2 linked regions of the Homo sapiens genome follow. The protein of the gene in region 1 purifies or fractionates together with the protein of each later gene. This does not show direct contact. Each region holds a gene or a part of one and is shown on either strand. Other genes may lie near its edges.

Region 1 (3,825 bases):
TCAGTTTGGAAGCACAGCTGGGGGCCAGGCAGATTTTCCTACTCCCAGTCTTGTACAGGTCTCTGCAGAGAGCATGAATCTCCTGGGGAGCTCTCACTCTCTCACCCTTTCCCATTTTTGTAGAGGTTCTTCTGCGCCACATTGATCCCAGACAGATAGCTTTGCTCCTCTCTGTTCTCTGTGTTCTCCTGCTGCCTTCATGGATCCCAGCATGGTTTCTCAGATGATTGGCCTGCAGGGTCAGTGTTGACTAGCCTTTTAGTTCCTCTCTGTGAGAGCAGCACATACAAGCTGCTTCTCGTCTGCCATCTTGGCCCTATCCCTCATCTTTATTTTCATTTCCTTTGGCCTAGGTAACTTTTTTTGGTACTTTTTCATTTTGCTTTGCTTTGCTTTGCTTTGTTTACTCTCAATCTTTGTATCTCCTTAGAAGTTTAGTGTGCCTCGTGTAAAAATCATATAGCTGAATTTGTTTCTTTTTAGCCAAACTGAAAAATCTTTGTCTTTTATGTCTTTTAGCTTCCACTTTAGTCTATTTGTGTTTGTTGGATTTGTTCATATGTTTGTATTTCTATCTAAAAACTTATTTTTAAAATTCATTTTCTATTTGTATCATTTATTCTAGTGCTTTTTTCCTCCTTTCCTATTTTCTTTTAGATATATTAGATGTTTATAATTGTAAGTTTTTCTTACCCATTTCTTTTTTTCTTATACTGGTTTGGAAGTCATATGCTCTATTACTATTCTTATAGTGCTCACTCTTAACATTTTACCATGCTGACTGAATTTAGTAAAGCCTAAATTGATCAAGGTTTTACTTCTCTTCTTAATAGCACATGAACTTTATTAATACTATATCATTATTGTTTTTTTTTATTTTTACAAGCATTTTTGTTTTATTTTTGCAAGCATTTTATTTATCTACACAAATATTTCTATATACTTACATGTTTACCAAATTGTTTGCTCACTATTTCTTCCCTTTCAGATCTTCTGTCCCTAAAATATATCCTTAGTAATTTCTGTAGGAGAGGACTGCTTTGTTTAGTTGGAACATTAATACTTGTTCTTGTTTCTTTTCTTCCTTTTTTTTTTTTTTGAGGTGGAGTCTTGCTGTGTTGCCTAGGCTGGAGTGCAGTGTCACAATCTTGGCTCACTGCAACCTCTGCCTCCTGGGTTCAGGCAATTCTCCTGCCTCAGCCTTCCAAGTAGCTGGGGCTACATGTGTCCACTACCCTATCCGGCTAATTTTTGTATTTTTAGTAGGGATATGGTTTCACCATGTTGGCCAGGCTGGTCTCGAACTCCTGACCTCAAGTAATCTGTCTGCCTTGGCCTCCGAAGGTTCTGGAATTACAGACATGGGCCTCTATGCCCAGCCTTGTTCTTGTTTTGAGAGAGATTTTTGATAATTCCAGAGTAACATTATTTTCTATTAGCTCTTTGAAGAAATTTCACCCCTGTGACTTATTTTCTCTGTGATGTTGTTTAAGTGTTTTAGAGATAATGTAGTCATCTTATGAGTCATAGTGAAGATCAAATATATATAAAGAGCTTATTAGTGTTTCTAACACATATTTATCACTATATAAATAAATAACCTTATTTTTCTTTTTTCCCTCCTTTTTTTCTTATAATTCTTATTATTGCCAATGCTGCTCAGCAATTCACTAAAATGCATCTAAGTAAAAATTTCTTTTTATTGACACCACTGTTTATCCTGTTTGGTATACATTTTTCTTTCCAAACATGTGGTTCTAGGTCTTAAATTTTCTAGTTTCTGTACATTCTCAACCCTTAATTCTTTGAATGTTACATCTATCTTTTATTTCCATTCTCTTCTGGAATTTTGATTAGGAAAATATACTTTTTTATTGTATCCTTTATAATTTTAACCACCTATACTGTGTTCAGTTCCTCATCTGTCTATAGTTGGGATAATTTTTTCAAATATGTACTTTATTTATTTTTATTTTTTATTTCCATAGGTTTTTGCGGAACAGGTGGTGTTTGGTTACATGAGTAAGTTCTTTAGTGGTGATTTCTGAGATTTTGGTGCACCCATCACCCAAGCAGTATGCACTTTACCCAATCTGTAGTCTTTTACCCCTCGCCCCACTTCCATTCCACCCTTTCCTCCAAGTCCCCAAAGTCCATTGTATCATTCTTATGCCTTTGCAGCCTCGTAGCTTAACTCCCACCTGTGAGTGAGAACATATCATGTTTTTCATTTTTTTTCCGGATTTATTTCCCAATTCATTTACTCTGAATTTTGCTGTTTCTCATATGCTATTTAACCCATCCATTGATTTCTTAATTTCAATAATTTTATTTTTAAAATTTCTAAATATATATTTTTTTCAGATTTGCAGATTCATGTTATAACCTTACGTCGTTTGATCTTTTTATTGTAGCTGTTATTTCCTTATATACTTTACTTATAGTTATATTTTGTACCCTTTAATTATAACAACTAGTGTCCTTCAGGGTATTTGTTAATTTTATTAGCTCATCCTCAGTCATGGCTTCTTATTTCCCATTATGTGTTTGAGAATAATTTTGTAAGCTCATACTTGGTTGAATTTTATTTGCAGAATTTTGAGTAGCTAATTTCTAATAACTTGGGCTGTATACCAACAGCGTGGATCTACATTATTAGTCAGCTCAGTCTGCCATAACAAAATAACAGAGACTGGGTAGCTCAAATAACAGAAATTAATTTCTCACACTCCTGGAGCCTAGAAGTCTAAGACCAGAGTGCCAGCCTGATCAGGTTCTGGTGAGGGCCCCCTTCTTGCCTTGTAAATGGCTGCCTTCTTGCTGTGTCCTCACAATGCAGGGAGCGAGTTAACTCCAGTCTCTTTCTCTGATTATAAAGGCACTAATCGTATTACAGGGTTCCCGTGCTCATGACCTTGTCTAAACCTAGTTATTTCTCAGAGGCCCTACCTCCGAATACTGCCACATTGGAATTAGGGCATCAATGTACGGATCTGGGAAAGGAGTGGCACAGTCAGTCAGTCCATAACATTCACTTGTGCTCTTTTTGAGAGCTTTGGTTCCTTCTATTTGTGTGGAGCCCAGGGAAACTCTGATCTTTTGCATCTCTTAAAACACACTTTTTTGATTTTAGTGTACCATTCTTTTTCTCTCTCTTGATTTCTCTCAGCCCTCAGAAATGGCCTTTATTTTTTCATGAACCAAAGTTATACAGTTTTCCATATTTCAGGCCATGTTTTTGAAAGGCAAAACCATTTCAAAAGAATGTTCAGAAATTTATATTTGATATATTTTGGATTTAGTATATGAGCTCTGACTCTATATATTAAAAACTTATGGGAATATTGTTTATATTTATTGTTGACTAAATATCAGTTACAGCACTCACAAAGAAATAATACTGCTTCATTCTAGTTGTAATTATTCCAGTGTGATTTGTTTTTTTTGCCTGGCACATGGTTTAAAACACAAAATAAGCATATAAAACTTATATGAGAGGGTTTTTCAGCCACAGGCAGAAACATACCACAATAATTTTTATCCTATGCTAAGATTTTGGTCCATAATAACATGATACCCATTGGAAAGATAGATTTGAGAAAGAAGCATGCTTAAATAATTTTTAAATTTTTTTACATGCATGTTTTTGGATAAGTGTATTGTTCAATCTTTAATATTAAAAACTAAAATTCTGAATGACAAACATATGTGCAAACCAACTATTGTGGCAAAAACAGTTTTTGTTGGTGAAGGGACTAGCTGCCATTTGGTGATTTTTCAGATAGTCAAATTTGAAAAATCAATTGGATCTTCTCTTCTCTTCTC
Region 2 (3,825 bases), on another chromosome or scaffold:
TTTCTGCCCTTTGACTTTTTCCTTTCTCCCCTACCCCATGTCTCCGTTGATTTTTATTCTTTCAGCTTTGTCACCGAAAAGACCTGGATTTGGCAAAAGTAGGATACCTTGACTCCAACACTAACAGCTGTGCTGATAGACCTTCCCTACTCAACTCAGGTCATTCTGACCTGGCTCCTCATCCCTCCCTCGGACCCACTTCTGAGACTGGTTTCCCAAGCAGAAGTGGAGATGGACATCAGACCCTCGTGAGAAACTCAGACCAGGCATTTCGGACAGAGTTCAACTTGATGTATGCCTACTCCCCTTTGAATGCTATGCCTCGAGCAGATGGACTGTATCGAGGATCTCCTCTAGTGGGGGATAGGAAGCCTTTACATTTGGATGGGGGATATTGTTCCCCTGCAGAAGGATTTTCCAGCAGATATGAACATGGCTTAATGAAAGACCTCTCTCGTGGATCCTTGTCACCTGGTGGTGAAAGGGCCTGTGAAGGAGTCCCATCTGCCCCCCAGAACCCACCACAGAGGAAAAAAGTAAGTGTTTCATGTTATATCGGCGAACTTTTCAAGAATGTTAACCAAGTAGTTTAGTAGATATTCATAAGTTTCTGCTATGTGTTCCGCACTACTCTCAGACAAGTGAGACATAGTCTCTGCCAAATCCAGTGAAAGACAGGCTGTTTTAGTACAACTTGGTGAATGTTGTAAATATTCAGCAAATGTAAATGCCTGTATGTGCCATATACTTGCTAGGCAATTGAGAGGTTAGAACAGTGAAAAAGAAATTTTACCTATTATTTAGTGTGTCCCAAGTTCGAGGCACTGTATTAAGCTCTTTAAATGTGTTTTATCCTCACAGTAAGCCTATAAGATAGGCAATTTTCTATTTTGCACATGAGGAAACTAAGGCAAGTTGAGTAACTTTCCCGTGGTCACACAGCTAGTAAATGGAAGGACCAGGATACTACCCAGTTTGAGAGAGAAGGCTGGAGTGAGAGGCAGCAGGTTACTGATTTAACTGAATCTCAAACAATAAGTAGGAGTCAGCCAACCAACAATTGAGGGTGAGGTATGTTACAGTAGAGGGAGTAGAACAGGTAATTAGGTGGCACTCCATTGGCCAGGCAGCAGGCATGCAGTATGGTGCAAACAGTTGGATGTTGTTGTATCAGGTGGAAGGCCGGGGGAGCCAGGAGGAAAGTGCAGAGAGTGCTGGGCTGGGCCAGGCCATAGAGAGCTTGCTAATGGGTTGGGACTCCACTTCCAAGTAATGCCTGATCAAGAAGTCACAAAGCCAAAAATATGCTTTTGTATAAGTGGTTCTCAACTAGGGGTGTTTGAGAATGAGTAGGAGTGTTTTGAATTGTCCCAGTGACTTGCATTTATTGAGCAGGGCCAGGGATGCTGAATGTCCTGTATAGGGGACAGTCCCATGTAATGGCCAAACATCTGTAGTATCCTCATTGAAATGAAACCTAGTGGTTTTTTTATATTTTCATTATAATGATATTACCAGAATTTATTAACTTCTTTCCAAAATTATTTCTAGAAAATGCATATGCAAAACTGTCTATATTTTTGTTCCATTTGGACAGAAAAATGAGAACCCTAAGGGGATAGAAGGAGGAGGAAACATTGGCAGATAATTTGGATTAAGATAATAATTGATTTCGAAGATTGTTGCGTGAACAGCATTGACTACCAGAAACAAACATGAAAACAATCTTTGGATTTCTGGTTTTATAATATTTACTATGTGCAAAAGTCATAGAAATTATGATATTTTATTTCAGAAACACTTCTGAAATTTATTGGGCACATTTAAGCATAAATTTAAGCATATGCCAAATTCTGTGCTGGATGTTAAAGATAAAAAGCCAGATAAACTTGGCCTTTGCCTTCCTAGAACTTATAGTTTAGTCAGGGAGCAATCAAGGCATGGTAATAGGTTCTACGGCCTGTGTAAGCAATGTGCCAGAACAACAAAGAGAAGGTGTACTAGGCAGGGCACGGATTATGGTGGGCAGGGTGGGATGGGAGGTCTGCTGTCAGGAAAGAATGAGCAAGCATTAGGGAGATGAAGGGGAAGTTAGGGAGAAGTTACCAAGTTGTTTTCTAGAGCTAGCTTGCTAAAATTATAAACTGGAAATAATAATTTCCTCTCTTTTTACATTAATTACATCTATGTGTAAGACAGAAACAGTAATAAATTCCTATTTATATCTTGAAAATTTGAACATATTTAAGTATCCTGGAGCATTGGGTTTTTCTTCTGTTTTGTTTTGTTTTTCCTTCTCTCTCTCCCTCTCTCTCTCCACCTACCTCTCCCCACCTCCCTCTCCTCCATCTCCTTCTCCTCTCCCTGCTTCTTTCTCTCAAACAGCTAACTCTAGGGGTTCCCAAGGAGTACAGAACAGCCATCAGTCACCTGGGAGGCTTTTTAAACTATACAAGCTTCCAATTCTCCCTTCTCTAGGTACTTCCATTGTTGCAAATAACTGTGATAGCATGCTTCTGTTACTGTGTAATGGTAACCTCACAAGTTTTTCTGAAGGCAGAAAAAAAGATGGTGGTCTAATTGGCAAACATTCTTTAGAGACTTGCCTCCTAGTTTATTATCTTCCTCTTACCAATTTCCAGCTGCCTTAAATATGTAGCTGTGCTCAGATCTCTTTCATACTCCCCAAAAAAAGTTATCAGGGTTGGTGTCTGCTTTGTTTGCGTGGCTTGGCTAGTGGTTTACTAAGGTACCATCTTTCCTTCTTTCCCTGTTGCTGGTGATCCACTAATGATATCCAGATAGAGTACCGTTTTTTGTTTGTTTGTTTTTTCCTTTCTAGGTATCCCTGCTGGAGTACCGAAAACGGAAACAAGAAGCTAAGGAAAATTCTGCTGGTGGGGGAGGTGACTCTGCACAGAGCAAAAGCAAGTCTGCAGGAGCTGGGCAAGGCAGCAGTAACTCCGTTTCCGACACTGGTGCCCATGGTGTGCAGGGATCCTCAGCCCGAACTCCATCTTCCCCTCACAAAAAATTCTCCCCATCTCATTCCTCTATGTCCCATTTGGAGGCGGTAAGCCCATCAGATTCCAGAGGCACTTCTTCATCTCACTGCAGACCTCAAGAGAATATCAGCAGTAGGTGGTAAGTTTATATTTGATGTTTTATAGTTAAATTGGGGGTGGGGGGGAGTATATATCTAAGATCATTCCCAGTTTTACCTAAAATCTATGGGAACACTTGATGGGAACATCTGAGACAGCCAGCCAACAGTACCATCTGTCCTGTTCAGCTGATTTAATAATGTCAGCTGCAACCCCCCAGCTTTGCAGAATTAAGAATTACCAACATGCCTGTGGAGCAGTGCTTTGGATGACATGTAGTTATGGATGCAGATGAGCTCTTTCATTTGGTGGGCACTAACACTGCCTTTCCTATTTCTCATTTCACATGAAAGGTGAGTCAAGAATCCAGCCAAGTTCCACATGAATTAACAACAGATGTCTCTCTTCCACACAGCTAGCATATACAGAGCAAAAAGACATTCTGAAAGGATTTGTCTGGTTTAGGGGAGACCACAAATTTAAAAATGAATAATACTGGTGGCAAATACTGAGGATCAAATGTGTGAAATAGAGAATGAAGCACAGGAGTTCAGGGATCTTGAACTGAAAAAAATAAGTCTGGGAAAGAACAGTCCTGGCTCAAATGTTTCATGTTCATTAATCTATGAAACCTTTATTAAACCAGTACTGTGTATCAGGCACATGATTTCCTAAAGGAGAAATTTTAACATTTTAAATGGGGGTTAAGGGAAGTTAACAT

What was found.
Region 2: the proteins of SPAG16 (region 1) and SETD5 purify together in Homo sapiens (affinity purification with mass spectrometry; one large-scale study listed by BioGRID and IntAct). This does not show direct contact.

The regions. Positions count from the first base shown.
Region 1 is NC_000002.12:213,924,271-213,928,095, forward strand, and holds part of SPAG16 (sperm-associated antigen 16 protein), read left to right. Parts: intron 1-3,825. UniProt on the Homo sapiens protein: Necessary for sperm flagellar function. Plays a role in motile ciliogenesis. May help to recruit STK36 to the cilium or apical surface of the cell to initiate subsequent steps of construction of the central pair apparatus of motile cilia.
Region 2 is NC_000003.12:9,470,394-9,474,218, forward strand, and holds part of SETD5 (histone-lysine N-methyltransferase SETD5), read left to right. Parts: intron 1-65; coding exon 66-536; intron 537-2,842; coding exon 2,843-3,144; intron 3,145-3,825.